Homo sapiens: one gene and its partners. The protein of the gene in region 6 interacts with the protein of the main gene of each other region in a pairwise test. Each region holds a gene or a part of one and is shown on either strand. Other genes may lie near its edges. The genes, in order: SOX5, CARD10, MORF4L1, RNF4, PBK and ZBTB26.

Evidence for each region.
Region 1: the proteins of ZBTB26 (region 6) and SOX5 interact in binary tests that used the Homo sapiens proteins (3 or more experiments, as listed by UniProt).
Region 2: the proteins of ZBTB26 (region 6) and CARD10 interact in binary tests that used the Homo sapiens proteins (3 or more experiments, as listed by UniProt).
Region 3: the proteins of ZBTB26 (region 6) and MORF4L1 interact in binary tests that used the Homo sapiens proteins (3 or more experiments, as listed by UniProt).
Region 4: the proteins of ZBTB26 (region 6) and RNF4 interact in binary tests that used the Homo sapiens proteins (3 or more experiments, as listed by UniProt).
Region 5: the proteins of ZBTB26 (region 6) and PBK interact in a two-hybrid assay, tested with the Homo sapiens proteins (2 studies listed by BioGRID and IntAct).

The regions. Positions count from the first base shown.
Region 1 is NC_000012.12:23,532,659-23,538,194, forward strand, and holds part of SOX5 (transcription factor SOX-5), read right to left. Parts: intron 4,012-5,536; coding exon 3,795-4,011; intron 1,865-3,794; coding exon 1,561-1,864; 3' UTR 1-1,560.
Region 2 is NC_000022.11:37,490,779-37,495,591, forward strand, and holds part of CARD10 (caspase recruitment domain-containing protein 10), read right to left. Parts: intron 4,809-4,813; coding exon 4,739-4,808; intron 3,411-4,738; coding exon 3,308-3,410; intron 2,025-3,307; coding exon 1,866-2,024; intron 1,773-1,865; coding exon 1,657-1,772; intron 1,090-1,656; coding exon 977-1,089; intron 616-976; coding exon 381-615; 3' UTR 1-380. UniProt on the Homo sapiens protein: Scaffold protein that plays an important role in mediating the activation of NF-kappa-B via BCL10 or EGFR.
Region 3 is NC_000015.10:78,885,569-78,891,104, forward strand, and holds part of MORF4L1 (mortality factor 4-like protein 1), read left to right. Parts: intron 1-572; coding exon 573-659; intron 660-1,700; coding exon 1,701-1,781; intron 1,782-5,420; coding exon 5,421-5,446; intron 5,447-5,536. UniProt on the Homo sapiens protein: Component of the NuA4 histone acetyltransferase (HAT) complex which is involved in transcriptional activation of select genes principally by acetylation of nucleosomal histones H4 and H2A.
Region 4 is NC_000004.12:2,501,570-2,507,105, reverse strand, and holds part of RNF4 (E3 ubiquitin-protein ligase RNF4), read right to left. Parts: intron 1-5,536. UniProt on the Homo sapiens protein: E3 ubiquitin-protein ligase which binds polysumoylated chains covalently attached to proteins and mediates 'Lys-6'-, 'Lys-11'-, 'Lys-48'- and 'Lys-63'-linked polyubiquitination of those substrates and their subsequent targeting to the proteasome for degradation.
Region 5 is NC_000008.11:27,807,847-27,812,229, forward strand, and holds the end of PBK (lymphokine-activated killer T-cell-originated protein kinase), read right to left. Parts: exon of another isoform or gene 3,322-4,383; coding exon of another isoform or gene 3,289-3,321; coding exon 3,112-3,288; exon of another isoform or gene 2,656-3,111; coding exon 2,459-2,655; 3' UTR 1,778-2,458; downstream 1-1,777. UniProt on the Homo sapiens protein: Phosphorylates MAP kinase p38. Seems to be active only in mitosis. May also play a role in the activation of lymphoid cells.
Region 6 is NC_000009.12:122,920,281-122,925,816, forward strand, and holds part of ZBTB26 (zinc finger and BTB domain-containing protein 26), read right to left. Parts: intron 1-5,536. UniProt on the Homo sapiens protein: May be involved in transcriptional regulation.

The DNA of each region.
Region 1 (5,536 bases), on a different chromosome or scaffold from region 6:
CTCCATTTTATTGGGCTGCAATGACTTTTAATTAAATCCTACTTTTTATGGCATGAACTACATATGGCCCACACTTCTGAAATGCTAAAGGCCTCCACCTCACTTCATGGAGGGGTGAAAAATACCTTATAAAATCATCAGTTTCATTTCCTGATCGGGAAAGGATGGAATGTTGAAGAAATAAGCTAATTCTATTTGTCTGAAAAAATGGCCAAATATATTCAATGAAAACAATGATTGTTTTGCTCAAAATATCAACAGGAAAAACAAAAATCACTAAGTAGCAAACGTTAATGGAACCAACTGACCAGGGAGAAAGGACATCTGGGAGCAGTTTGCTAGTAGCTTCCATGTTATACATGCACACCTCTATTACACAGGGCCACCTGATCCATCCAATAATAATCAGACATTTAAAAATATAATTTCTGAGCCCTATACTTGGTTAAGTTGTCATTTGAAGTGCAAAGTCAAGGTCAAGATTATTTCTAGACCAGTCACTTGGGAGGATGTGGGATTTCATCCCCAGATGTGGGTTTAACTCACAATGGTCCAACGTTATTCCTATTATTAGTACCATAATCACATACATACATACACACAAAAATCCAAGATCAGAAAATATTTTTCTCTAAATTTCTTATGTCTCTCTCTCTCTCTCTCTTTTCACCTGAGAACAGCACCTACAGTTTCCATTAAAAAAAAAAGTCAAATCTCACCAGCTGCTGGTATTTCAGGTTTTTCAAGGGATTGTCTAAGATTTAACACTGTCCTAACTTAAGAAGGAAAAGGAAAAAGTAAAGAGAAAAAATGAACTTGGTCAACACTTCAGTACAAATTTGGCACTTGCTCAAAGATGTAGTGTGGTGTGCAATAGATAAAGTCCTCTAAAGAAAATAATTGCTTATTTTGTGGTGGATAGCAAGGAAGTTAAAAACAGGCTCTTTTTCCCTCTTTCCCCTCATGCACAGACTTCCATCTTTAAAGTAGAGAGATGGAGAAGGTGGAGAGAAGTAAAGAGAAATTCATTTTTCTTTTTTTTCTGTCAGGTGCATTACAAAGAAAAAAAATGAAAGGAAAGAAAAAGAAAAGGAAAAAACCCAGAAACCCCAAAAAACAAAACAAAACTTTTTTCTTTTTAAAAATTGTAGCACAAAACAACAAAACACATTCACAAGCCACTTGTTGGCACTGTGTACCTGAGTGAGAATTTCTAGAACATTGTAGAACAAACAGCCATAAAGTTTATTTAAAAAAAAAAAAAAGTTGACGGGTAAGACTTCAGTGCTTGGATGTAGCAGCTGAATTACTGGCATTATTTTACCCATAGCTTATTTCAATCTCTTGTTGTTGATATTGTTGTTTGCTTGTTGTATTTGTTTTTTCTTTCCAAGCCTTTTGAGGCTGAGGTCTATTAGTCAGCTGATGTCCCAACTATTTAAGACTAACAGTTAAAGTAACAGTCAGTGTATGAGAAAGTTAATGTGCTTGGCCACTGGTAAGGATGAACCAGTTAGGGCTTCTTTAAGTCCTAAGGTCACAACAATCTTTTGACCCTTATCAGTTGGCTTGTCCTGCAATATGGTTTTCACTGTCACTCCCATAATCTACATCTGGATCATCCTCTTCCTCGTCGTACTCATCATAAATTTCTCCATTGATGTCCTCGGCCTGTATCTCTTCTTTGATATGTGGCTCCTCTCCTTTCACACCGTAAGTGCTCTGGATAACAGGCATCCCAGGCTCTGGGCTGCTAGACACGCTTGAGTGCTCCGAGGGCAGGTGAGGGGAGGGCATCCCAGCCATGGCGATGGCTCCAGGGTACACAACACCAGCAGTGGCAATGGGGATCTGTGCTTGTTGCCTGTCAAGAAAGGAATTTCCAAAAAGACATCGTGGGTAAGTGAATAGTTAGATGTGGACTTTACTACATAATTAATTTGCTCAGCAATGTCCAATTCTAAGGTACTAATTTTATCTAATTGCCTAACATTTTTCAAACTCCATCCTACTTGAACTTTAATACCTTGTTTTTCTTTTCTTTTCTTTTTTTTTTTTTTTTTTTGAGATGACGTAGTTTCGCTCCTGTTGCCTAGGCTGCAGTGCAATGGCGTGATCTTGCCTCACTGCAACCTCCCCCTCCAGGGTTCAAGCGATTCTCCTGCCTCAGCCCCCCAAGTAGCTGGGAATACAGGCGCCTGCCACCACACCTGGCTAGCTTTTGTATTTTTAGTACAGACGGGGTTTCACCATGTTGGCCAGGCTGGTCTTGAACTCCTGACCTCAGGTGATCCACCTGCCTCGGCCTCCCAAAGTGTTGGGATTACAGGCGTGAGCCACCGCACCAGGCCTAATACCTTATGTTTAGGTAGTGCTTTATAGAGTACAAGATATTGACATGTGTTGTCCATCTTATTCTTAATCCTGTTTGTTACTACTGTTTTATTAAAAAACTGAGGTGCAGAAAGATGAAGCAGAAGAACCCAGGTCCTTGATTCCAAGTTCATTTTTCTTTCATTATAACATGCAGAAATAGTATTTTTCCCTAGAATTAAATCTAAAGATAATTAAATTTTAATGGGAAAATCCTAAAGCATTAGAGTTCTCAAAATAAAACTTTACTGCCCAGAACACACCAGAACTGAACAAATTCACACTGTCCACTGAGTCTCTGAAACAGTTCTGGCCTCGTAGTGGTAGGAAGCAGGAGCAGCTTCATGGATGTACAAACTGTGCAACTGCACTAAGGTCCCATACTTGGTTTAAAGTTGTGCTGCCACAGACTTGAAATTCTTAATAACTTTTTAACAAGAGACCCTGTCTCCTCATTTTTGCATCTGGTCCTATAAATAATGTAGGTGGTCCTATTGGAAAGGATGAATAGATGATGTGCATTTATGCTTGTTTTTATTCATTCGTATGTTTACTATTTGCCCAAGAACTGTTGGGCATTGTGTTTAGCTTTGTGAGGAGTCATGTGCTTGCATATGAATCACAGACCACTGGACAGAGCATGCAGCCTCTTCCAAGGAACTGGAGGGGACAGAGCAGATTTGGAAAGGTTTTATGAGTCCTTCTCTGCCCATATTTAGAACAATATTTATTATTCTAAGAAGCTCTTAGAAACTAACTTCTGTTTCAAATATGAACAACTTTATTTTGGGTTTTTGAGAGAATTCTATAGAAGCAATGCATTTCTGTAGCCCATCTACAGCACTGTCAACAACCTTGCCACGGGAGCATTGTAAAACATCTCGGAGCTGCGTTCTCAATTCAGAATGAAACCTCCTGTTCCCAACCTTGTTACACCCTAAATATAATCCCTAGCTTGTGTGATCCACAAAGGCCACACATGTACCTTGATAGCTCACTAACCTCTCTATATTTAGAAATAAGTATTTTTGCTTTTGAAATGATTTTTATTTTGTATTGTCTCAACAAAGTTGTTAGTTTTAGAATTTATCATGGTGAAGCTTAGGAAGTAATGCAAACCAATGAAGAAAAGAACCAGTTATACTTCTAAGTTTTTAATAGAAAACTTCAAAATCATTTGCTTGTAGATATCTTGTTTTTAAACCAGTTGTTAACAAATCTCATGGTAGAGCTAGGAACTTGCAGTGGATTCATATGGACATATTTTTCAAGATCATGTGGGAGACTATTTGTCTCTGAAAATACTGTGAGCTCAGATTCTTTTTCAAAATGTCTTTTTGCAACTGAACAAATATGTTTCACATCCCATTAAGTATAACAGGAAGTTTGCCCCATGAGAAAAATGACTAAAAGGTACATACCCAACATTGAAGTACTGCCGCATTTCCTGCCGCCTGTTGCGCATGATTGCCTTGTATTCACCAATGCGCAGCTTTTTGCCATCCACCAGGCAGGTGCGCTTTGGCCTGGGCTTGTACTTATAGTCAGGGTACTTCTCCAGGTGCTGCTTGCTGAGACGGGCTTGCTCCTCATAATATGGCTGTTTCTCTAGGTTTGTCATAGCTTTCCAGCGAGATCCTATGAAGAAAGGAGGTTAGGATTCCAATTTGCACAGCTTCTAAGCATTCCAGAAAGTGATATGGCTGAGAACAAGAAAATCTAAAGTTGAGATGTTAGCCAAAACCCAGAAATACATAAACCTGTTTTTGATTAGTGAGATCCCACAAGAACAGAGGTGGTGGTGGTTTTGTACCTAAAGATATAAACACTGGGCAGTATTTTTTTTTTTCTGGTTTGCATTCTAGCCAAACTTTTGTATTATGTCCCTTAAAGCTCATAGATAATTTAATGGATACATTTCTCATTTCTACATTAGATCATGATATAATTCACATGTGAACAGAAAAGTTACATGATATGTTATCATGCATTTTGAATCTGAGACTAATTATCTAGTTATTGAATATTTTTATGTGGGAGATGTTTTTTACTACAAAAGTTCCCAACATATATCATGTAGTCTCATCCTCCCCAAAATGTTTAAGTATTTTAAGCTTACAGGAATGGTAGTAATTAAAAATTCCTTTGATTAAACATTTAATTATAATTAAAATTATAATATTAATAAACATGGAGTGGGTAACTACTATGTGCCAGACACTGTGCTGAAACCTTGACATACTGATGTCTTTTTCCTACCTTTCACCTCAATCTTATAAAAGAGACAGCATTTCTATCTATTTTCATAGATGAGAAAATTGAGATTCAAATAGATGGACTAACTTAGCCAGGGTCATAATTACTGAAGTACAGATCTGTGACTCAAACTCAGATTTGATATAACTTAAATTGTGCTATAATGTATGCCCTTTCCTACATATGGCCACCTACTATACAAAATATAGCAGAGGTCACAATTACTGTAAATGCGTATTACGATTTTCTCTTAATAAATCAATTTCAATAACATACAAAGACGTCACTTCCCATGATACAGTCTGCTTTAGTAATAATAACCCAAATTGTTTTCCCCCTTTCTTTTCACTATTAATTTTGGTGTGAATTTAGCTGGGATTAAAAAAGACAAGTTTGAAGCTTAAATAAAAATAGTTTATGCTAATTCACATTTTAGATATGGTTTAAAACTTGGATTCTGTCAGTATGGCTATGTGTAATAGAAGTGGTAATGTGTCCGGAATTGGTGGGTTCTTGATCTCACTGACTTCAAGAATGAAGCTGCGGACCCTCGCGGTGAGTGTTACAGTTCTCAAAGGCGGTGTGTCCGGAGTTTGTTCCTTCTGATGTTCGGATTGAGAGGTGACAGCGTGCTGGCAGCCCTCAGTAGTAATAGCGTTTTTTTTTTTTTAATAGTGATTTAAAAATCTATTTGCAGATGAAGTGTGTTTATCTGCAAATAGTCATCTCAACTCAACGCGAATGCACAAAGACCGATAAACTGGAACTAGGATATCCCTACCAAATGGCCTTATACCTGCCTTCAAATGTCATCTAAGTAAGATCTTAGAATCTTTCGAATGAGTTCATTACTCACCCGTAACTCCCTATCTTAAATGCAAATAGCTCACTGTTGAATAGTTCTTCC
Region 2 (4,813 bases), on a different chromosome or scaffold from region 6:
CCCAGGGCAGCGGGACAGACCTGAGCCTGCCCATGAGAACTTGAGTGTGCAAACCTGCGCACAGGTGTGAGAACAGACTCCAGGGCGAGTGTTTAAGGAGAAGACACAGACACACATAAGACCCACTAGTGGGAATGTGGAGACCCCAGGAAAGGTGGGGAGGCCCAGAGCAGCAAGTAGAGGGGAGTGGGCACTCTGTCCCGGGACTCCCATAGGCTCGGCAGGGCCAGAGACAGCCTTGGGGGTGAGAGGCCAGAGCCAAGGGCCCTGCATCTGAGAGTCCAAGGGTCTAGGAAGGCTCAGGGTGGGAGGGCCCAGCTTCACCATAGACACCAGGGTCCACGCTGGCTTGGGGAGAAGGTGCAGGTATCAGATGAGCCTCAGGCCTCACTGCTGCTGGGGCAGCCTCTGCTGCTGCCGCACTCCACCCACACGAGGCGGGCCTGCTCCTGCAGGATGCGGCCGCGCACCACCTTGGCCAGCTCCTCTGCGTGTCCCCACTCATGGGCGGGCACCTGCACCCAGGAGCAGGGCAGCCCCCAGAGCACCTGCTCTGAGCCACGGCACTGCCGCAGCAGCTCTGAGTCCCGCCAGCCCGGCCGGCCCAGCAGACCCCTGCCGAGAGAAGAGTGAGCAGCGGTCAAAGTGGGGGACCAAGACAGACAGAGAGACAGGGAGAGAGGGACAGACAAAGGGGGAAGAGTCAGAGAGAGAAGATGGACAACCAAAGAGAGACAGATGGCAGATGGAGATGGAGAGAGAGAGACAGAGAAGGGGAGGGAGAGACGGGGGAGGGAGGGGGGAGGGAGAGAGAGGGGGAGAAGGAGGGGGGAGGGGGAGGGAGAGAGGGGGAAGGAGAGAGAGGGGGAGGGAGAAAGAGGGGGAGGGAGAGAGAGGGGGGAGGGAGAGAGGCATCCTCAAGGAGGAAGCTCTCAGGTCCGAGTGCCCTGCCCACTGCCCCACCCACCCACCTCACCTGACTTCCCGGACATTCTTCTCAGTCACCTCCACGTGGATGACGATGGGGTAGATCTCGTTCTGCACCAGCTCCCGCACACCCCGAGCACCCAGCTCCAGCAGGCAGTGCTTCTGCTTGGAGGATCGAGGCTACAATGTACTCCTGGGCCACAGACATCAGCCTCCCATGCGCTGCCCCCAGACGGGTCCCCTATCACCGCCTTCCCAGATGCAAGTCCTGCCTCCCCACCCAGAGGGACCCTGGCAACGAGGAAGGAGCCCAAAAGTACAGACAAGAGGCCTGGGCTCATGGGGCAACCTGGAGATACAGACCTCCCCCTCAGGACCTAGGCCTCCCCACCCGGAGGATGGAGCTGACCCAAACCCACCCACCACCCGCCACCTTATAGCCGACTGCCAGCTCCCAGGATAGTGGCAAGTTCAAGGATAAGGATGTGTAGGTGAGCTGTGTCAGCCAAACACCTCAAGGGGGGCCCACATGCAGTCAACTGCCCCCACCCACCCAGGCAACAGGTGAGGAAACTGAAGGCCACAGGAGGGAAAGGACTTGGCCAGGGCCGCCCTGCCAGTGAGCAGCAGAGCATGGCCCGCGCTCAGACGCTGGCGCTCAAGCCCAGAACAGCAGCACCCGCTCTGGGCCACCTCTGTGAGCACCCCAGGCCAGCCCCCAGCACCCACCTTCCCAACAGACTCCTGGATGGCCCGGATCCTGCTGCCTAGCCCAGGGGTGGCAGGCTGAGCCTTGGGGGCTCCAGGCGCTGAGGATGGGCACAGTTCCTCCCCAGAGAGGCTTTCTGCACAGGGAGTGGAGAGGGAGAGATGAAGGATCCATGGGCCCGGCTGCCCAGAGGGGCACCCAGCCTCCCCTCCCCGGCACATAGTCTCACCCGCTGGGCACACTTGGAAGTCCAGCCGGGAGCTGGGCAGGTCTAGCAGGTTACGGATGAGCCGGGGCGCCAGGCACTCAGGCAACAGCACCACGGGCCGCAGGGCAGACACCAGTAGCGGCCGCACCAAACTGTAGGGTCTGAGGCTCCGCTCCGGCTCTGTGGCAGGGGAGGGGCGCAAAAGAGATAAGGGCACAGGCAGGCAGCATACCAGCTCGTCGATACCCCAAAACCCACCCCGCCACCCATCCCTTCCTAAGTCCTGCTGCTGCTCCTCCTACACATGCACACACACACACCCTTAGTAGGACCGACGGTGGCAGTAGGCTCCTCCCTGATTCTCTGCCTCATCCCTGCCCCCTACGGGTCATTCTCCATCCAGCAGCCAGAGAGGCTTTAAAAAGCAAATCAGATCATGTTAACTCCCCTGCTTTCAACACACCAGTGACTTCCCAGATTCTCAGGAATAAAAGCCACATCCCCCACGTGGGTGACACAGTCCTGCCTGAGAGCCTGGGGAGGCTGCCAGCCACTGACCCCACACCACCAGCCTCCACTCTCCCTTCAGCTGCGTCCAACCACAGGGCCTTTGCATGCCCTGGGGCTGCCCAAAGCCCCAGCCCTGCACCACTCAGCCCAGTTAACCCTTGCCCTCCCTTCAGAGCCTAGGTCACACCTTCCCTGGTCCCCAGACATCAGGGCCCCTGGCATGTGCCCCACGGCCCCCAGTTCTCCACTGCACACCTCACACTCTCTCATTGTGTTCATAGGTGGGATTATCTGACTCTCTACCCCCTAATTAGACAGCAAGCTCCATGAGGGCAGGGACAGTCACGTCCCCAATGCCTGACAGAGCTGGTACTCAATACTCACCTGCTGTCCCCAACACCCTCCAAGCACACCACACACAGCCATGCCTCTGTGCCTTCTGCCTGGAACGAACTCCTCTTTAACTTTGAAGGCCCCCGCGGAAACTCCCTCTCTTCCAGGAAGTCTTCCCTAACTACCCGCTCCTCTTGCCCCAGATTTGCTACTCCCTCATCTGAGCTCCCCCAGCCCCTTCTACCTGTCTGGCCTAAGGCCTCACCCTACTGCCTCCGGGAACCCCCCTGGGTCCTCACAGCACCTGCCACCACACACGTGTGAGAAGCACCACTACACACACTCTGCCAGAAAAGAACAAGCCAGTATGTGTGCAAACCCACAGTCACAGCCACGTCTGCATGCACCTCCCCGCAGGGTCTCCCTCAACCTTGGCAATCACCATGGCAGGTGGGGTGGTCTTGTCTCTCAGGCCCCCAGCATGACCCCCACTCCTGTTGGAACCCTCACAACAGGCCCTTCCAGGCCAAAGAGGCCACCCAAGCTAAAGGACACTCAGCTGCACACATCCCTGGACAATGGGAGCAACACGGGATACAGCTTTGCCCCCGCGCACTCACCTGCACAGGGCTCCAGCAGCAGCTGATCCGGGGAGTCCCCTGCAGGCGCCCCCACGGGCTTGGGCCTCACCAGCCGCAGCTGGTCCAGGGCTCTCTTCTTCAGCTGGGAGGGTGCAGGGACAGAGGAGCATCTGAGAGCTCAGCCCCGCCCCCTCAGGGAGAGGAGGAAACGGGACCCCTGGCACAGCGGGCCCCACTGCCACTGTGGTCCAGGCTTGCCAGAAGAGCCTGGGTCAGCAAAGATGTCCTTCTCCACCAGGCCCTCCCCTGCCCCTCCCCAGCCCAGCACAGTCCCCCAGGCAGATGAGAGCAGCCATCCCTGTGGCCCCCGGGAAGCCAGCCCGTCTGAGCCTGGTGGAGGAGCCTTAGGTATACCCCCCAAGCTACAGATGGGGAGACTGAGGCCCAGAGACCAAGAGGAACCAAATGTCACATACGAGGCAAACTTTAGGGTCTCTTCCAATGAATTAGCAATGTGACCTTGGTAGAAAAATTAATGAAACCAATAAAGATGGCACTGATTTTACCAATACCTGACAGGTCTCAAATGCCTACAACATGACAGACACTCACTAAGCCCCTGAGGGGCACTAACTCACGGAAGTCATCTCCTGCCACGCACAGCCTGACAGGCAGTACAACCCCCGCACTTTACAGATGAGGAAACAAGCCTCAAGGAAGGTTCAGGTGATTGTCCAAAGTCACACAGCTGATAGGTGGCAGAGCTGGGGTCGAATGCAGGCTGCCTGGCTGGGGCCCTCGCTCTTCCTTTATCTGATGGCTCTGAGCCTCACTTGCCCATGTGCACAGCAGCGCTGGCCACGAAGCCCAGCCACCATCCAGGCATTGGAAAAGGGGACATGACTGCTGGTTTGTTTTTTTTGTTTTTTTTTTTGAAACGGAGTCTTGCCCTGTGGCCCAGGCTGGAGTGCAGTGGCGCGATCTTGGCTCACTGCAAGCTCCGCCTCCCGGGTTCACTTCATTCTCCCGCCTCAGCCTCCCAAGTAGCTGAGACTACAGGCACCCGCCACCACGCCCGGCTAATTTTGTTTTTGTATTTTCAGTAGAGACGGGGTTTCACCGTGTTAGCCAGGATGGTCTCGATCTCCTGACCTTGTGATCCGCCCACCTCGGCCTCCCAAAGTGCTGGGATTACAGGCGTGAGCCACTGTGCCCAGCCTGTCAAATGCTTATTATGTACCAGGGGTACTCCTGCATACTAGGCACGCTTTACCTCATTTCATCTCTAAACTACCCTGGACGGTGAGCTCTGCTGTTCTGTTTGCTGGGCACATAGTAGATGACCAATTAAATCACCAGGGAAGGAGGGAGGGAGTGTCTTCCTAGGTTGCCAGAGAACAGAGCCTGCTAGCTCCCTTTTGGACCCCACCCTTGGGGCCCCCCACCCACTACCTGCCCAGCCGTGCTCACATTACTGCGGGGGCCTCGGTGCCGGCTGGAGGGCAGGCATTTCTCCTGAACTTCTAGGAGCTGCTGGGCTCTGTG
Region 3 (5,536 bases), on a different chromosome or scaffold from region 6:
TGGTGTTTGAGTATTGTAGACTTCCTAATATGTTTCTGACATACCTTTAGTGTTGTTTTGTGTCAGGGATTCTCAGGTGTTTTACATGTATTCTCATAACAGTTATTTGAGATAAGTACTGTTGTTATCCTCATTTCATAGAGAATGAAATGAAAACACAAAGCTATATGGAACTTTGTCATTACACACAGCTGGTTTTAATTTTTAAAAATAACTGAGTTTTTGACTCCTGTGCTTTATTTTTGACAATAAAAGTCTTTAAGATAACATAAGACTAATCACTTAGTGAATCTTACATTAAGTGCCAAACTCTTAAGCCATTTCTAAAAATGATTTGAATAATCTGCTTTTGGACTCTGGCAGCTTAGATTTGGAATGCTGCTTTTTGAAAATAAAAAGTTTTCCTTTTTACAGAACAGACTTCCATTAGATCTTCATTTTAGTTGAGAATATATTTGTAGTGCCAGTTCATCAAATTACTTAAGAGAAATCCAGTCTTGCCTCTTGATCTCAGAAAATTAGTTGGAGAACAGAGTATTTTTGAGTTAAATTTTAACTTTCCTCTTTTTCAGTTGGGATGAATGGGTTCCGGAGAGCAGAGTACTCAAATACGTGGACACCAATTTGCAGAAACAGCGAGAACTTCAAAAAGCCAATCAGTAAGTTTGTTTTGTGAACTGAATATTAAGGAGAAATGCCTGTAGATTAATTCTGGACATGGAATGAACAATGGAGATCATGTTGGCTGCCCTGCCTATAAAATGATTCCTGGTACCTTTCAGCTGCTGTGTTACAGCTTTGACTTCAAGCGATCAAGCCATATCTAGGTAAAGGAAGTAGCATACCTGCCATTACTTGAGCTTATCTTAGACCTAGGTAGAAAACAGCAGAATGTTGTTGGAAATTGCTATAGGTATGAACTCACTGATAAAAATCTTTATTTTCGGGGGCTCTGGAAGACAAATTTGGTGGGGAAACAAGCAAACGAGGCATTTCCTATTCTGCTTTTCATCTCTGAAAGCACGGGAAAAGGGACCCTGAAAGACTCTATGATTTATAGGGTAATCTCAAAGTTGAAATGTATTTTTAAAAAAATTAAAACGATGGCTGGGCGCAGTGGCTCACGCCTGTAATCCCAGCATTTTGGGAGGCCAAGGCGGGTGGATCACGAGGTCAGGAGATCAAGACCATCCTGGCTAACACGGTGAAACCCCGTCTCTACTAAAAATTCAAAAAATTAGCCGGGCATGGTGGCGGGCGCCTGTAGTCCCAGCTACTCCGGAGGCTGAGGCAGGAGAATGGCGTGAACCCGGGAGGCAGAGCTTTCAGTGAGCGGAGATCGCGCCACTGCAGTGTAGCCTGGGCAGCACAGTGAAACTCTGTCTCAAAAAAAAAAAAAAAAAGAATTAAAATGGTAATGGGAACAAATAAAACACTGGGATTAGTGAATTCCAAAACAAATGGAATTTTCAATGCTATGAGAACAGTCTATTACAGTCACTTTTTATTACATTGATTTTAATTGAGCCTTTTGCTGTTTCTTGAGTGTTTTGTTTGATTTTTGTGGAAATATCTCTGTCCAACTTGTTAAAAACTTGTTGCCAGAATTTGAATGTAAATTCCTAATGGAATCAGGCTGACAATTTTTTTTTCACATAAATGCTCATTTTATGTTGACATTACTGAAATTATTTTTGAAGGGAGCAGTATGCAGAGGGGAAGATGAGAGGGGCTGCCCCAGGAAAGAAGACATCTGGTCTGCAACAGAAAAATGTTGAAGTGTAAGAAGCTCTTTGTTTTGATTTTGCATACTATATGTGAAGATAATATTTTATGTTCATTGTGTGTTAGACTGTGTTGAAGTGGAAACTTTGGAACATTGTTGGAACCAGTAAGAATCCCATTCCTCAGGTATCAGGTCGTTAAAGTAGTTTAAAATAACGTATTCCTTAATTTTCCTCAGCAGGTTCCCCCTCCCTTTAACTTGTGTGTATAAATATATGTGTGTGATGTTTTCTCTTACAAAGATAGTACTAGTGGTTATAAGTTTTGAGATAACTTTTGGCAAGCCTTTTCAAACCTAAAAAGCAAGTGCTGGCAAGTGCTAAAAATACATACGAATTAACCTCCACTTTGGTGAAACTCATGGTAAGAATATGTGAGAAGTTAAGGTTTCAAATAACTGCCCTCCTCATCCCCACCCCTAAGAAAACCATTGCTTTTTTTTGAGACAGAGTTTCCCTCTTGTTGCCCAGGCTGGAGTGCAGTGGTGTGATCTGTGCTCACTGCAACCTCTGCCTCCTGGGTTCAAGTGATTCTCCTGCCTCAGCCTCCCAAGTAGCGGGGATTACAGGCGTGTGCCACCACGCCTGGCTGATTTTTGTATTTTTAGTAGAGATGGAGTTTCACCATGTTGGTCAGGCTGACCTCCTGACCTCAGGTGATCCACCTGCCTTGGCCTCCCAGAGTGCTGGGATTATAGGCGTGAGCCACTGCTCCTGGCACAAAACCATTACTTCTTGTTAACTCTAGATTTTAGAACATCTGATAAGAAGCCTAGAGTGAGAAAGTCATGTGCATGCATACATTTTGTATGTTTAAAGTTTATGTAGGACGGTGCGGTGGCTCACACCTGTAATCCCCCTACTTTGTTTGGGAGGCTGAGGCAGGAGAATGGTTTGAGCCCAGGAGTTTGAGACCAACTTGGGCAACATCGGGAGCCTCTGGTTCTACAGAAAAATAAAAAAATTAGCTCGGGGGTGGTGGCACATGCTTGTAGTCCCACCTATTCAGGAGGCCGATGTGGGAGGGTCACTTGAGCCCAGGAGGTCAAGGCTGCACTTTAGTCTTGGCGACTGAGTGAGATCCTGTCTTTTAAAAAGAAAAAAAAAAAAGTTGATGTACCTGAAAGTGGATGACAAGAGTGGTAACTTAATAAGTATTCTTAAGTATTTGTAATAATAAAAACAAAAATTATAACTTTTATTAAGAGGTCATTTTATTTCCTACCAGAATTACTGATCTGATTTTTCTACTTAAAAGTAAGGTGTTACACCCAGTGCTTTGGGAGGCTGAGGTGGGAGGGATTGCTTGAGGCCAGGAGTTCTAGGCTGCAGTGATCTGTGATTGCACCACTGCGCTCCAGCCTCTTAAAAAAAGTAAGGTGTTACTAATGAAGGTATTTAGTATTTAATGCATTTGGAGATGTTTGAAGCTTTTTATTTTTTTTTAAACTCTTTTTGGTGAGAAGATAATTGGCAAGGATTAAGTGTGTTACTATTTGAGGATTGTTCATAGTTTTAATAAGTGGTAACATGTTTTCATGATCTGGTTCTTTGGAAAACTGTAGTGTAGTATTTCATTAGGATTTAATAGTAATTATGTCTTAAAAGGCAGTAATTTTCTCTATATAGAAAAGATTTTTATCAAAAGTAATAGTTCATAACTAATTCTTTATCACTGTGCTAAGTTATTATATAGAAATCTTAAGTGGTAGTATGCCCATAAGTTATTTGCATTTGAATACAGCATTGTGCAGTCTCCACTACAAAAATAATGGCTGAGTAAATATATGAAGTAAAGCTTTAAAATTTAAATTTCCCATTCTTGAACAGTAGAAGCCTCTTCAAACTGGCTTCTGAGTCTTTTGAAGGATCCTCAGTCTAGACGTTTGAAGCATGAATGTCAAGCTCTTACTACTAGGACTTATTGAAGTGTATGGGTTGAATATCCCTTATCTGAAGTGTTTCGGACCAGAAGCGTTTCAGATTCCAGACTTTTTTTGGATTTTGAAATGTTTGCGTTATACTTACCTGTTGAACATCCCAAATCCAAAATGCTTCAATGAGCATTTCCTTTGAATGTCATGTTGGCTCAGAAAATTGGGATTTTTGGAGCATTTTGGCTTTGGGATGCTGAACTCATCTATATTTTATAGATCTTTTACTTTAGAGTTGAGATCACCTGTCAGTATTTTAGTTTTATATTACAGAGGTGAGTGGGTAAAGGATTGAGTGTGAAGACTATTGGTTTCTCTTGGTCTCCACATATTGACACGTGCAAGTAAAGTTCATGGTTGACTTTGACCGAGAAATACAGTCCAACAGATTTTTACAAAACTAACAGACAAGAGAAAACCTATACACAGATTTTTGTGTTTATATCCAAACATAAGTTAATTTGAATTGTCAAACCTTAAGACCTAAATTAAATGAATATATTTAATTAATAACATTTATAAGTATTATTTAAAGCTACAGAAAAGTAAAAAATCCAGGTGTTATAGTATCTTTCCATCGAAAGTAATCCATAATCATGGGCTCTATAAACTGTTTCCTTTGTGGTCTAGAAATAATAATGTAAAAAAGCAAAATTAGGCCAGGCATGGTGGCACACGCCTGTAATAGCATTTTGGAAGGCCGAGGTATGCGAATCACTTGAGGTCAGGAGTTTGAGACCAGCCTGGCCAACATGGTGAAATCCCGTCTCTTAAAATACAAAAATGAGCTGGGAGTGGTGGTGGGTGCCTATGGTCCCAGCTACTTGGAAGGCTGAGGCAGGAGAATCGCTTGAACCCGGGAGGAGGAGGTTGCAGTGAGCCGAGATCACCCAACAGACAGAGCAAGACTCCATCTCAAAATAAATAAATAAAGCAAAATTAGCAATTTACCATTTGACAGTATATAAGTGACGTGAGGTAAGTTGCTGTTAGAGATGATAATCAAGATGAGGAGACTTAAAACAAAAAAATTACACAAATCTAAAAATATTTTGGGGAACAAAAATAATTGGAAAAAAATTTTAACCTTTGACACCTTTTTTTTTTGGTGGGCCTAATAATGTAGTATATACTATAACATATATTAATATAACCCTGGAAGAACGAAGTTGTTTACTAAAGTGTTCTTGGTTTGCTTTTCTTTTTTTTTTGTCTTTGAGACAGGGTCTCTGTCACCAAGACTGGAGTGCAGTGGTGCAATCAAGGCTCACTGCAGCCTTGGCCTCCTGGGCTCAAGCAATCCTCTCACCTCAGCTTCCCAAGTAGCTGGGACTATAGGCGTTTGCCAGTATGCCCAGTTAATTTTTGTATTTTTTATAGAGAACAGGATTTGCCATGTTGCCCAGGCTGGTCTGGAATTTTGAGCTCTAGAGATCCACCCCCTCTTCACCTCCCAAAATGCTGGGATTACAGGCATGTGCCACTGCGCCTGGCTTGGTTTATTTTTTTCTATTATGTGGAGAGAGATGGGAATTTAACCAACTATCAATAAAAATCCTTGTGTCTGAGTAGGACACATATTTACCACCTGATCCTTTATCCAAGTTAGTATTTCTCTGTGAACTTAACCCTGATAAAGGGAGTTGAAACAGAGGCAGTTTTACTGGAAATAATTATTTTTCTTTTTTTTCTCTCCTTTTAGGAAAACGAAAAAGAACAAACAGAAAAGTAAGAATATTAACTTTCTTAACGTTAATTTATGTTACCTCTATGACATTGACGTTTTTATTTTGAAAGCTATGAAATTTTGGAGTAAGC
Region 4 (5,536 bases), on a different chromosome or scaffold from region 6:
GTGACTTATTCATACATTATAGAAACAGACCAAAAAAAGATTCCAGAAAAATCAACCTTACTAAGAGACAATCTTTGGAAATTTAAGAAAAACAGCCTAAGTAACATTTTCAATAACCTTCCCCTTAAAGAATCTCGATTCCTTAAAGAGAGTTGCCAGTCTCTTTTCTACCACTGCATTGCTTCTAGCCAGAGCAGAGACTGGCATACTGAAAATGCTCATGAAAAGTGACCCAAGGTCAGGCTCAGTGGCTCACAACTACAATCCCAGCACTTTGGGAAACCAAGGTGGGAGGATCACTTGAGCCCAGGAGTTTGAGACCACCCTGGGCAATACGGTAAGACCTTGTCTCTCCAAAAAAATATAAAAAATCAGCCAGGGATGGTGACATACCCCTATAGTCCCAGCTACTTAGGAGGCTGAGGCAGGAAGCTCAATTGAGCCCAGAAGGTACAGGCTGCAGTGAGCCGTGATGGCACCACTGCACTCCAGCCTGGGTAACAAAGTGAGACCCTGTTTCAAGGGAAAAAAAAAGAAGAAGAAGAAGAAAAAAAACAAATTTGGAGAAAGCACACAACTTGGAAAAAAAAAAAAGATTATTTGCTGTTAAAAAGCAACCAAGGAGGCCGGACATGGTGGCTCACGTCTGTAATCCTAGCACTTTGGGAGGCTGAGTCAGGTATATCACTTGAGGCCAGGAGTTCAAGACCAGCCTGGTCAACATGGCAAAACCGTCTCTCCTAAAAATACAAAAATTAGCTGGCCGTGGTGGTGTGTACCTGTAATCCCAGCTACTCAGGAGGCTGAGACATGGGAATCGCTGGCACCCTGGAGATGGAGGTTGCAGTGAGCCAAGACTGTGCCACTGCACTCCAGCGTGGGCGACAGAGCGAGACTCTGTCTCAGGGGGGAAAAAGAAAACAACAAATGGTTTGCTTTGTTCTAGTTCAATTTTTTCAACGATTTAAAAAGTTTATAGGACTCAAGGAACCAAAACTGTATCTGATGGCCTCAAGGGTTATGTTTGAAGGCTTGCTGACTTGCAGAAAACTCAAGCTGACTGTTCAAGATGTTCAGGGCAAAAACTGCCTAGCTTCCATGCGTGGGTCTTACCCATGACAAAATGTGTTGTGTGATTTAAAAATGGCAGACCACCCGGGTGGATCACTTGAGGTCAGGAGTTCGAGACCAGCCTGGACAACATGGCAAAATCCTGTCTCTACAAAAAATACAAAAATTAGCTGGGCGTGGTGGTGCATGCCTATAGTCCCAGCTACCCAGGAGGCAGAGGCTGCAGTGAGCTGAGATCACGCTACTGCATTCTAGCCTGAGTGACAGTGAGAAACCGTCTCAAAAAAAAAAAAAAAAAAAAAAAAAAAAAAGGCAGACCATGATTGAAGCTCATGTTGATGTCTAGACTACCAATGGTTAAAGAAAACCTCAGCACCAACAGGTCTAAGATGATGGAAATCATGACCCAAGGCCGGGCGCGGTGGCTCACACCTATAATCCCAGCACTTTGGGAGGCCGAGGCGGGCGGATCACGAGGTCAGGAGATCGAGACCATCCTGGCTAACATGGTGAAACCCCGTCTCTACTAAAAATACAAAAAATTAGCCGGGTGTGGTGGCGGGCACCTGTAGTCCCAGCTACTCTGGAGGCTGAGGCAGGAGAATGGTGTGAACCCAGGAGGCGGAGCTGGCAGTGAGCCAAGATCGCACCACTGTACTCCAGCTTGGGCAACAGAGCGAGACTCCATCTCAAAAAAAAAAAAAAAGAGAGATGCAGACAAATAACTTGAAAGAAGTGGTGGAGAAAATTATTCCAGACAGCACTGGAGAAGACACAGAAATGCCTGCAAATCTATTTATCCGCTCCACGATGTCTTCTCTGTGAGGAAAGTTAAAATGCTAAAAACACTCAGGTTTGCATTGGGAAAACGTAGGGAGCTTTGTGGTGAAGACAGCAGTTCTGGAAAAGCTACTGGGATGAGCTAGGTACTAAAGTGAAAAGTCCTATTTATGATGAAAAAAGTTTATATACGAAAGTTGCATAAAAAAAAGCTATGTAACAGCCAGGTGCAGCGGCTCATGCTTATAATCCCAGCACTTTGGGAGGCCAAGGCGAGTGGATCACCTGAGGTCAGGAGTTCAAGAACAGCCTGGGCAACATGGTGAAACCCCATCTCTACTAAAAATATAAAAAATTAGCCTGGCATGGTGGTGCGTGCCTGTAGTCCCAGCTACTCAATAGGCTGAGGCAGGAGAATTGCTTGAACCCGGGAGGCGGAGGTGAACTGAGTGAACTGAGATCGTGCCACTGCACTCCAGCCTGGGTGACAGAGTGAGACTCTGTCTCAAAAAAAAAAAAAAAAAAAAATACAAAAAATGAGCCGGGCATGGTGGCGGCTGCCTGTAGTCCCAGCTACTCTGGAGGCTGAGGCAGGAGAATGGCGTGAACCCAGGAGGCAGAGCTTACAGTGAGCCAAGATCACGCCACTGCACTCCAGCCTGGGTAACAGTGCAAGACTCTGTCTCAAAATAAATAAATAAATAAATAAATAAATAAATAAATAAATAAAAGCTATAAAACAAAGAAGTTTTAAACAGGCACTTCACAAAAGAGAAAAATAAACATGAAAAGGTGTTTGATCCCATTTGTAATAAAAAAGCACAAATTAAAACCACAATGAGACACCACTGGACAAGCATCAGAATGGCTAAAATTAAAAGTGGCCATGAGGATGTGGAGAACCTCAAACACTGGCATGAATGTGAACTGCTCCCTCTTTAGAAAAGTCTGGCATTTATCCAGTAAAAATCAAAGACACTCACACCTCGGGACACAGCAGTGATGCCTTTTCTAGGCTATGCAATGCCAAAAATGAAAGTTCATTTTGAGGGAAACTAATCAAATGAGATGAACAAAGTCTCTCACTGCATCTTACCGCATTTTTCATTTCCCTTCATTTTTCAGGGGCTTTGAATTCCTTCGAAAGTTGGAAGAATGTGCACACCTGTATGCAAAGTTTCCAGTCTTTTTTTCTTTTTTGAAGAAGACAGGGTCTCACTATGTTGCCCAGGCTTGCCTTGAACTCCTGAGTTCAAGTGATCCTCCTTGCTCAGCCTTCCCAGTAGCTGGGACCACAGGCACAAAGTTTAGAGGGTTCCCTGATGTTCTGACGGCTACCTCTGGATCCTGGTATCCAGGGATTCCTATATTACAGGTACAGAGCTACTGGAGCTAAAGCAGTGCACTCAAACTATTCGACAGGTCCTGGCGGAACTGGTAAGGAAGGTTACCCCGCTTCCAGAATGAATACATTTATCCATTTTATACTCTCCTGCAGGTGCAGCCTAGGGTCACCCTGAACACACGATCCATCTACAGATGCCCCTTATCCTCAGTGACTAGCATTAGAGGCCTCCCAAACAGATCTGCTCAGAGGCAGAATTCCAAACTCAAGTATATGTCTCAGTGTAAATTCATAAACTGGCACTTGGACTTATTAAAATCAAAAATAAGTAGAGAATGATTAGCAAGAGCTATCAAGTCCAAAGCAGTTATTTTGTGGCTGACAACACTGAGGACAGTGTGAGATAAATCCACTGATCAAACTGACCAGTAGATCTGAGAGACCAGAACCTAGGACTCCTGCTTCCCAAGCCAGGAGCGTCTCCCTTTTACCTATCAGCTCTCCCTCTGGCCACCCATCCACTTTCCAGGGTAGCTCCCTCAACACCAATATTCCTGGTCCCCGGGTCTCCCAATGACTGCAGATCTTATAAAGGTTAACCAGACAGCCCCAGGTTAATTGGGAGTAGGACTGCCAACATGGAGCCCTAGCCCAGGGAAACAGAAGAAAGGTAGGGAAGTTCAGAGAGGAAGCCCTTTTAGCAAGAGCAGCTTAGTCATCAAAACAAAACAAAGCTGGCCAGTGTGGTGGCTCACACCTGTAATCCTAGTGCTTTGGGAGGCTGAGGTGGGTGACTGCTTGAGCCCAGGAGTTCAAGACCAGCCTGGGCATCACAGTGAGACCCTGTCTCTACAAAAATATTAAAAAATCACCACCACCACCCGACCCAAATTTAGTAGTGTATGGTGGCATGCACCTGTAGTCTCAGCTACTCAGGAGGATAATGTGGGAGAATCACTTAAGCTCAGGGGTTGGAGGCTGCAGTAAGGTGTGATCATGCCACTGCTCTCTAGCCTGGGCAACAGAGTGAGACCCTGTTTCTTTTCTTTTCTTTTTTTTTTTTTTTGAGACAGAGTCTTGCTCTGTCGCCCAGGCTTGAGTGCAGTGGCGCGATCTTGGCTCACTGCAACCTCCGCCTCCTGGGTTCAAGTAATTCTCCTGCCTTAGCCTCCCGAGTAGCTGGGATTACAGGTATGCATCATCACACCTGGCTAATTTTTGTATTTTTTTTTTTTTTTGAGATGGAGTCTCACTCTGTTGCCCGGGCTGGAGTGCAGTGACGTGATCTCGGCTCACTGCAACCTCTGATTCCTGGGTTCAAGCGATTCTCCTGCCTTAGCCTCCTGAATAGCTGGGACTACAGGCGTCCGCATAATTTTTGTATTTTTAGTAGAGACAGGGTTTCACCATGTTGGCCAGGCTGATGTCAAACTCCTGACCTTGTGGTCCGCCCACCTCGGCCTCCCAAAGTGCTGAGATTACAGGCGTGAGCCACCGCGCCCAGCCTGAGACCCTGTTTCTAAAGCAAAAGAAAACACAAGTGTGAAAGGGGAAATGATGTTGGTTTGTCAGCCAACAAAAGCCAATCAATCATTGTCTTCCTGCAGTCAAAATCCTAGCTCTCTCCTCAGGGTCTGGCAGAGAGAAGGCCAAGAAGACTGTGGTGAACACTGAGTATTCAAGAAAAACAAAAAACAAAAAACAAAAAAACTTCTGCAGACACCACTTTCCAGCTTTAATGAGCAACTGGTGAAACCAAGGTGTCAGCTGGGAAAAAGAAAGAGGGGAAAAATCAGTGACTGTGCTGTAGCTGCCAGCTAATATACCAAATTAGTTATCTTTCCAGAACTCCATGCAGGACACAGGGATGATAAGCAAAGTCATATGTGTGTATGTACCTCAGAAAACACGTTAATGAGACCTAAGCAGGGACCACGTACAACTAAACCCACTGCTGCTTATCTCAGATGGTTTTCCATCCCTGTCCTTTTCTTTGCATTGAAGTCTTGAAACTTCTCAGTATAACCCTATTCTGAAGTTCTCAGCACAACTAAGAAGCAACACCTATGGGGTGTCCCTATTCAGATACCCAGGCATCAGCCAAACAGGATAACCCCAACACCAGTGAGCCCAGGGCCAAGGCGAAGACTCAGCTACTAGCAGCCCCCACACCCCACAGTCCTCCTCAGCAGCACTTACCACCCCACTGCCAATGCTGCCAAGTGTGCCCCCACCCCGACCTGTGTTCCGAGCACACTGTCAGAAAACACTCAAGTGGCATCTTCCAGAGGCAAACTTGCCCTTAAGATGCTGACCAGATTCCCAGACCTGCATGCACCA
Region 5 (4,383 bases), on a different chromosome or scaffold from region 6:
TGGTGGAAGGAACCCTTAGGGATTAATGCCCTTATAAAAATAGAGGGTCGGGGAGCTCCCTTGCTCTGTCCACCATGTAAAGACACAGCCAGAAGGTGCCTTCTATGAGGATGCCCTCACCAGATACCATCTTGATCTTGGACTTCCTAGTCTCTGGAACTATGAGAAATTTCTGTGGTTTGAGGCACCTCGTTTATGGTATTTTTGTTATAGTAGTCTAAGACGGGAGACTTGTTTTGTTTTTCCCAAATTCTTAGCTGATATATATAGCATTTTTTTATATATAGTTTTTATATGTAGCATTTGTCTAGTTTAAAATCCTTTCTAATTTTTATTCTAATCAACAGATTGTAGAAGATTAAATAGGTACCAGGAGACATGAAAGAATCATCTTCAACATTTCTCAAGTAGCTGCTGATTATCTCCTTTTATGGAGGCATAACAAGCTCCTGGAGGCTTCTACAGATTCTAAAGGGAAAGATTTCCTGGGAGGTGAGAAAGCCACTTGAGAGAAGGCTATTTTGATTTACTAATTAATTCAGTGTAAAGGTAGTCCTGGGCACGGTGGCTCACGCCTATAATCCCAGCAGTTTGAGAGGCCTAGACAGAGGTTGCTCAGGAGTTCCAGAGCAGCCTGAGCAACTTGGTAAAACCCTGTCTCTACAAAAAATAAAAAAAAAAAAATTAGCCAGGTGTGGTGGCACACACCTGTGGTCCCAGCTACTCGGAGTGGGAGGCAGAGGTGCAAGGATCACTTGTGCCTGGGAGGTTGAGACTGCAGTGAGCCATGATTGCCCCACTGTACTCCAGCCTGAGTGACAGAGCAAGACCCTGTCTCAAAAAAAAAAAAAAAAAAAGCCCTCAGCCAAGTCACATGTTGCTCTTTTGAGAATGAGGCAAATGTCCAAAAAGATAACATCTGAGACTTAGAGCAAGTTCTAGAACAAGAATAAAAAAAATTTTCTTCCAGTTGGTAGCAGATTGTCTGCAATCTTGTGTTGAGGATTTCTAGGACCTCACCAGACTCAAGGGGCAGTGCATGCTGGGATTATTTTGTAATGTCTACCATAGACAAGGGCTGTGAATTTGCTGGTCTTGTCCTTGGTATTAGTTTATTCCTATTAGATATCTCAACTGTAGGAAGTGGAAATAAATTTCTCAATGAAAAGCAATGGCTTATGTATTAAAGAGCCAATTCAAGAAAGATCCAGTTCCTGCTTTAAGTCTTAAAGCAGGAACTGCTATTCCTGCTAGGAAAAGAATGCCCTGGAGAAGCTGCTCTGTTGGCTTGGCAAAGAAGAGTGACACATGTCAGAGTGAGGATAAGAGACCCTATTGAGTATCAGGATGCAAAATTATACATACGTTTTTCTACAAATTAAGACAACTTCCAATTTACTTGTCACATTATTTTGATGGAATATATGCAAATTAATGTTGTGTCCTATTGCTTGGTACAATCTTATACCAAAAGGCCTTCAGTGATTTCTAGGCATTTTTAAAGTTCAGAGTGCAGTTGTTCCTAATGTTTCTGAGAACGCCCTGTGTCGGTAATTTTTAAAATTCTGTCTACACCCAAATGTAGGTATACCACCTACATTGGCAATTCAGTAATTTGGAAAATTCCCAGGGGACTGTGGCTTACAGAAACTACTGATCCAAAACACTTTATAGATTAGCAAAATAAGGCCAAGAGAGGGAAAGAAACCTCACATTTACTCAAGTTTAATGACAACACTCAAATCAATGAAGTATAAAATAATGCTGAGACACCTTCTGGTACCCAAAGTGTCCTTTATTCTTTATCATCCTATTTGAGTTTTATTGTTTTTACACAGCTGGGAAATGCTTAAGGTACAAATTAATAAATTTTAAACTCAGTATGGAAAATACATTTAATAAATTAAAGCAAAAACCAAAGATCTGAGGAGATCCAAGAGATCAAGACAATCTGTAACCAGAGTCTGAAGTATCCAAGGAGCTACTCTTTTTGAGGCATATTCTCCTCAGCTTCCAGTTATCATTTGATAAACACATCAGCAAAAGGTTCAGTGTTTTAAACAAATGTAGACTTTATTTTGTACTGTACAAAGTGCTAATGTCAGTAGATCCATTAAAATATAGAATATTTAAGAAAGATCATTAATAAAAGTAATGGTCATTCAATTTAATGTTACAGTTTACAGCGTTTTACTGCTAGTGTTTTAAGTCAGCATGAGCAGTATCAAAGTACTTATGTAGCTAGTTTCTAAAACTTTACAGAAAACCCAGTACAATTCCAAGTGCTTATAGCCAATATAAGCATATTTCATATTAGAAATAGTTATCCATATGTTAACAAGAAACTATGGTCCTCAAATATGCCAATTTTAGAGTCTAATAACTACTGATAGTAACTATGTAAATATTTTGGAATAAACAGTTATTTACGCAAGCCACACTTCAGCTGAGATGATCACTAGACATCTGTTTCCAGAGCTTCAACAATGTGTGCAGCAGAAGGACGATCTTTAGGGTCTTCATTAGTGCATACAGAGAAGAGTTCAATTACTTTCTGGTATGATTCATCCAGTTCTTCCATATTAATAGGTGGCCTAGTTCCCAACGCTGCATAGTATGCTTCATCATCAAAATCACTTTCATCAAAAGTTTTATCTTGAAGGAGTTAGAGATTGAAACAATAAACAAAATCACTTTATGTCATGGAAAAGTTTAATAGCTCACCCTTCTCCTGAAACAAGAATTTATGGTCCAGTATGCTTTCCATTCTGCCACAGACAGAATGGAAATGTCTTCAATTGTCCTGCCATCAAGTAGATTTGCTTTAGTCTTGGATTTATAGGTTATCGACCCCTACTTTTACCCTTCCTGTGATAGTTTTCCAATCAATCATTTTCTCAGGAAAGGGGAGTTTTTAAGATAATGTTTTGCTTCTCTGGATAGCCTCAATTTTTCTCCCTATTCTCAATCTATGTCTCATTTGTGTGAGATTAAACCTTGGTGGTACCAAATCAGTCATCAGTACTAATACATATCTTAGAAAGATAAAATTATATAATCTTTAGTGTGAAATGAAGAGATTGGGATTTATGTTAGAAATTGTATTCATACCTTCATCATCATCATCATTTGAAAGATTAATGTGTGGAATCGATAAAGTCATCATTTCCCACAAAGTAAGGCCAAAGGCAAATATGTCTGCCTTGTCAGTAATAACACCATTCTCCTCCACAGCTTCTTTGGGTTTCCATGGCTCTGTGCCAATGTAACAAGCCTCAGGGTCAGTCACTGAAACAAGCAAGATGGTTATGAAGGCAGGAGCTACAAATCACGAAAAGGCAAGCAACCCAAAGGGAAACAGGCGAACGATTTGAACAAGTAGTTCACAGGTTAATCAGTGTAGCCAGAAAATGTAAAAATACACTCAACCTCAATAAGGATTACTTTCTACCTTTCAGGTTGGTAAATATTCAAGAAGCTGGTCAGTTGGCAGGTATGTAGAGAAACAGCAATTCTCTTACAAATTAGTAGGAATATAGAATGTGGATGTTGAGATTACAGACTCTGGAGCCAGACTGCCTTGCTTGGGTTGGTTCAAAGACATGTGTGTGCAAGCTGCGTGACCTTGAGCAGATCACTTCTAGACCTGAATTTCTTCATTTTGTGAACAATATTAGGCTGAGAGAAGTACCATTTCTATGCTTCCATGATTGCTATGTCAAGGAAAAGGGAAAGGGACCAATCACACATAGGCTCTTTTTTAAAGCCCAAGAAAGAAATAGGTCCACTCACATTTCCATTTAAACTTGAGTCAACTTGTCAATTTCAATGAAAAAGCCAGCTAAAATTCTCATTAGGATTGGACTAAATCTCTGGATCAATTTAGTAAGCATTAACATCTTAATAGTATTGAGTCTTCCAAACCGCAGTCATATATTTCTCCACTTAGTTATATCTTACTGAATTTTCTCAGTGATGCTTTATAGTATTCATTACAGAGGTTTTAGACTTTTTTGGTTATTTATTCCGAAATATTTTGGGTTTTGGTACTTGTAAATAGATTTTAAACAATTCCATTTTCAATTATATACTGCTAATACACAGAAATGTAATCACTAACTTCACTATAGCTGTTTTATAGATTCCTTGGGATTTTCTACCTAAACAACATATCAACTGCAAACGGGGACAGTTTCGTCTCCTTTCCAATTTTGCCTTCTCCATTTTCTTGCCTTATTTTAGTGGCTAGGGCTATAGGACTGCTAAATAAAACTGGCAAGAGCAGGCATCCTGGTCTTGTTCCCTACTTCAGTATGATACCTGCAGGTTTTTCTTGTAGACAGCCTTTTTCAAGCTAAGATCCCTTCTATTTCTAGTTAGCTG
Region 6 (5,536 bases):
TCTAAAGCAAACTAAAACATAACCCACACAAGTAAAGATGAAATAATTATCTTATTTTATATAAAACTGTGAACCTGCTTCTTCTAAGGCAAAAGCAATTGTCTCCCCACTTCAGAACTCTAATATGGAGATTTTCACCTCTCTGGAATCATTCAGTAAAAACTGGTCTCTGAAGAAGAGAGAACCTACAGCAAACATGGGTTCCTTTGCTCTTTTTCTTTGCTCTATATTTTAAACAACTGCACTGACACTGCTTGTCCAATTCCTGGCCAAGCCCTTTTCTGTTTAAATTGATATGAACTTATTCATACAAGTATTTCTGCAATAAAATGAAAGTCACAGAACTAACGGGACAATGTTTAGGCAAAGACAAAGTTCTTTGTCCTGTCCATTCTGGAAAAATCTAAACTCCGTTTTAAGGAACACTTCTTTATAAAGAAAATAAGATACTTGATGTAGAAAAACGACATGAGCTATATGGTGGGAATCTGAGTAGCGGTAACATAGATCGAATCAATCCCTATTAGATTTTGTTCTTTAAACTTTATCCCTATTTATCAATCATTAGTCATTATGTGGACTACTAGAACTGATTCATAAATGTTGCCTTGGCTTCCTGCTTATGTTCCCTCTAATACAGTTTTCATACCACCACATCTTTCAAAAACAGAGATCTGATTATACCCCACCCCTGCCTAAACTCCTTCAGTGACTTCCCGTTGTCTCCTGGATGAAGACTAACCTCTTGAATATAAACTGATTAATGAAACCCAATCATAATTAAGGTAAACACTGGAAAAACCCATTCAACAATGGAGAAGGTATCTTTCCCCAAACTGTCTGCATACTGATTCCTTTATATAGCAATTCCTTTGGTGAAAGTCTCCATGTTCTGATTCCATACTCTCATAAATGATTTTCTCATAACCTGGCTTCCCATTTGTCTCTCTCAAGGGAAAAGATAAATTTGCCATGCCAACACGATAATTCCAGTCCACTAGTCACTGTAAACTAATGACATAATGAATTGACATTCTCTTTATATACCAGTCTTCTATGAGATTGGTAGGTATGCTAGGTCTGTCTTTGAGATATAGCTCTATAATCTCAGTGCATCAAGAAATTCACTGAATTTTATGTATTAATCAACCCCTTAGTTCAGAGTCAGATGAGACAACCAGCTTCTCCTGGCCACATCTGGACCCCAAAGTCCAATCTTTATCATCTTAACTTCTGTAACAATGGATATCAGCTCCTGATGGCAGAGTCCAGGTTTTATTCTTATTCCTTAATGCCTGATACATAACAGCTCTCTCTTGGCTCCAGACCTAATGATACTTGTTTCCTTAGTTTAAAACACTACTTTCTAGGCTGGGCATGGTGGCTCACGCCTGTAATCCCAGCACTTCTGGAGGCCAAGGCAGGCGGATCACCTGAGGTCGGGAGTTCAAGACCAGCCTGACCAACTTGGAGAAACCCCATCTCTACTAAAAATACAAAATTAGCTGGGCGTAGTGGCACATGCCTGTAGTCCCAGCTACTCAGGAGGCTAAGGCTGGAGAATCACTTGAACCCGGGAGGCAGAGGTTGTGGTGAGTCAAGATTGCACCACTGCACTCCAGCCTGGGCAACAAGAGCAAAACTCCATCACAAAAACAAAAACCAAAACAAAAAACAAGCCAGGCATGGTGGCTCATGCCTGTTATCCCAGCACTTTGGGAGGCTGAGGTGGGTGGATCACGAGGTCAGGAGTTCGAGACTAGCCTGGCCAACATAGTGAAACCCTGTCCCTATGAAAAATACAAAAATTACCCAGGTGTGGTGGCACGTGCCTGTAGTCCCAGCTACTCAGGAGGCCAAGGCTGGAGAATCACTTGAACCTGGGAGGTGAAGGTTTCAGCGAGCCGAGATTGTGCCATTGCACTCCAGCCTGGGTGACAGAATGAGGCTCTGTCTAAAAAAACAAAGTAAAATAAAACAAACAAAAACACCACTTTCTAAACAATTGTGACTCCTTTATTTTCTCTGAGAGGCCCTTCCCTGACCGCTTAATAGAGTAGAATTGTCTCTTCTGGGCCCATTGCATACTTCTACTGTAACACTCAACACACTTTATTAAATACTTATTCCTTCCCATCCAAACTCCAAGTTTCATGGTATTAGGGGGAAGTATCTCCATCTAATGCTGGGAACTTGCATCTTCTAAGACAAAATATTCTTTACTTTTGCTTTGAATTATATTATACTTATTGCAGCTACATTGCTTGTCCCATTACTGGCCAAACCCTCTTCTGTTCAAATCAGTGTGTATTCCCATCGCCTAAGACTGCACTAAATACACAGCAAGTGCTCAGTTTGCATTAGTTGAACCTATCAGATTAGTTTGACAGTGGTAAGGAAGAACTGTTGTTAGGAAGACCAGCTTAGTGTCTGCAGAAGCATTGCAGGTCTGAGGCCATGATGGCCTAGAAAGAAATAAAAATGGGAATAAGACGAAAGGAAAAATAACAAAAGATATTTCAAAGAACTTGGTAACTGACTGGATATAGAGAATGAATAAAAGGAATGTGTAAAGATTCTACATTTAGGAGTTCATTTGAATGAGAATGGCATTGAAAGAAGGTGACCGGCCAGGCACAGTGGCTCACACCTGTGAGCACTTTGGGAGGCCAAGGCTGGTGGATCACGAGGTCAGGAGATCCAGACCATCCTGGCTAACACAGTGAAACCCCATCTCTACTAAAAACACAAAAAATTACCCGGCATGGTGGCGGGCGCCTATAGTTTCAGCTACTCGGGAGGCTGAGGCAGGATAATTGTTTGAACCCGGGAGGTGGAGGTTGCAGTGAGCCGAGATTGCGCCTCTGCACTCCAGCCTAGGCAACAGAGCAAGACTCCATCTCAAAAAAAAAAAAGAAAAAAAAAAAAGAAAGAGAGGTGAAATTTAGGAGGGGGAACTGGTGTGGCACCAATATAAGAAGAAGTAATAAGTATATTAATAAAAACACAAACAAAGCATAATCTTTCCCCTTGTATGACATTTTGAATGTACCGATAATCACAATAAATACAAAAACTGCATTGAGAGAGGAGCGATGTAGACAAGCAAATGAAACATCAGAGAAAAGACAGTGAGTATCAAACATGAAGGGAAAATGTAGAAGATATACAGGGAAAATGTCAGTAATTTAAAGCAGCAAAACTATTATCATTGGTCACTTTTAGCAACTGCAGTAGCTTAAAATACTCATTTTGGATTTGGAGTGATGAATGTTCCAATTTGTAACCAGAGTTGTAAAAATGACTGTTTCAAGTGGCCAAACAAAAGTGGCATTCTTTTTTAGCATTTAGCTGGTTTTGAAGGTGCCTATGAAACCCTCAGATCAGTATTTCCCTCCTCACACCCCAAAATAAGCATTCATTGGTTCTACCTATATTATGACAGTACTCACAATGCTTTAGACAACTATCCTCAGAGACAATTGTTCCTTGCTCTAAAGATGAAGAGCTGGAGTGTAGTTTCATTTAGTCATGTGTCATATGACAGTGTTTTGTTCAACAATGAACTGCATATACAATGATGGTCCCATAGAATATAATACCATATTTTTACTGTACCTCTTCTATATTTAGATACACAAACACCATTGTGTTACAATTGCCTACAGTATTCAGTATAGTAACATGTGGTACAGGTTTATAACCAAGGAGCAACAGGCTGTGTCATACAACCCAGGTGTGTAGTAGGCTATACCATCTAGGTTTGCATTAAGTATACTCCGTGATATTCACAAAATGATGAAATCACCTAACGACGCATTTCTCAAAACACATCACAGTTGTTAAGTGATGCATGACTGTGCTTCCTATCCATCAGTTCTCAAGAAAATTATCAACAACAGCAGCCAACCAGATAGTTCAGGGAAGTGTTTGCTTTGATCTGTCTGCTGTAGTCTAAGAATGTGAGCAAAATTTATTGGTTTCTTAAAGGATGTTTTCCCTAGGATGTGTCAGCCCACTCTATTGTCTCTCTCTGATAAATTCTTATTTCCAGGCCACACATCTTATCCCTTAATTGTTTCCTTTCACTAGTTTCTCTTTCCAATAGACTGTTAGTTATTTGAGGGCAATGACCAATGGTTTGTTATACTTTATACAGCTCATTTGACAAAAAACAGAAGAATAATGAGTTCTTAATGTTCCCCCATGAAATTATTACTAGGCTATGGTACAGATGCTCTTCATTATGATATCTTCTTTTGAGTGCCTAGGGAAAGCTTTCTTTCTAGGGTTTGTTACCAAAATAGTTTTGGCAATATAAAACCAAATTTCAACTTTCTTTTTTTTTTTTTTTTTTGAGACAAGGTCTCACTCTGTCATCTGTCACCCAGGCTAGAATGCAGTGGCGTAATCATAGCTCACTGCTGCCTTGGCACCAAGGCTCAAACAATCGTCCTGCCTCAGCCTCCTGAGTAGCCAGGACTACAGGTGCACACCACCACACCTAGCTAATGTTTTTATTTTTTGTAGAGGCAGGGTCTCGCTGTGTTGCCTAGGCTGGAGTGTAGTGGCGCAATCAAATCTCGCTGTAACCTAAAACTCCTGGGTTCAAGCAGTCTTCCCACAAGGCCTCCCAAAGTGCTAGGATTACAGGCATGAACCTGTTTTAAACACTTAAAAAAAATTTTTTTTGATAGTTAAAAAAAGTTTCTTATGAACCATCTTAATTTTATTTAAAAATAAGAGAAATGATACCTAATCTTCCTTGCTACATTTCAGGTATAGATGTTATACCTAAATTGACCCATTTAGGCCGAGCACAGTGGCTCATGCCTGTATTCCAGCACTTTGGGAGGCTGAAGTGGGCACACTGCTTGAGCTCAGGACTTTGAGATCAGCCTGGCCAACACGGTGAAACCCCGTCTCTACAAAAAATACAAAAATTAGCTGGGCGTGGTGTCATGCGCCTGTAGTCCCAGCTTCTTGGGAGGCTGAATGGGAGGATGGCTTGAGCCCACGAGGCAGACGTTGCAGTGAGCCATGATCATGCCACTGCACTCGTCTGGGTGAAAGAGCCAGATCCTATCACAATAAATAAATAAATAAATAAATAAATTGACCCATTTAATCGTGAAAATTTCTACAGGTAAGTATTACCATTATCCCACATTTTGTATATGACGAAACTAAGCTTAGAAAACATAAATAACTTGTAAACCCCAACGGAGGTTGAAAGTGTTAAGTGTTAGATCTGGAACTGGTGGTTTACACTGCATGATGCCAAAATCCAGGTATGAAACAACTAATCTAGGTACAATTTTTTTTTTCTTGTTTTGAGATGTAGTTTCACTCTTGTTGCCCAGGCTGGAGTGCAATGGCGTGATCTCGGCTTGCTGCAACCTCTGCCTCCTGGGTTCAAGTGATTCTCCTGCCTCAGCCTCCTGAGTAGCTGGGATTACAGGTGCCTGCCACCATGCCCAGCTAATTTTTTTTTTTTTTTTTTTTTGGAGACAGAGTTTCACTCTTGTCACCCAGG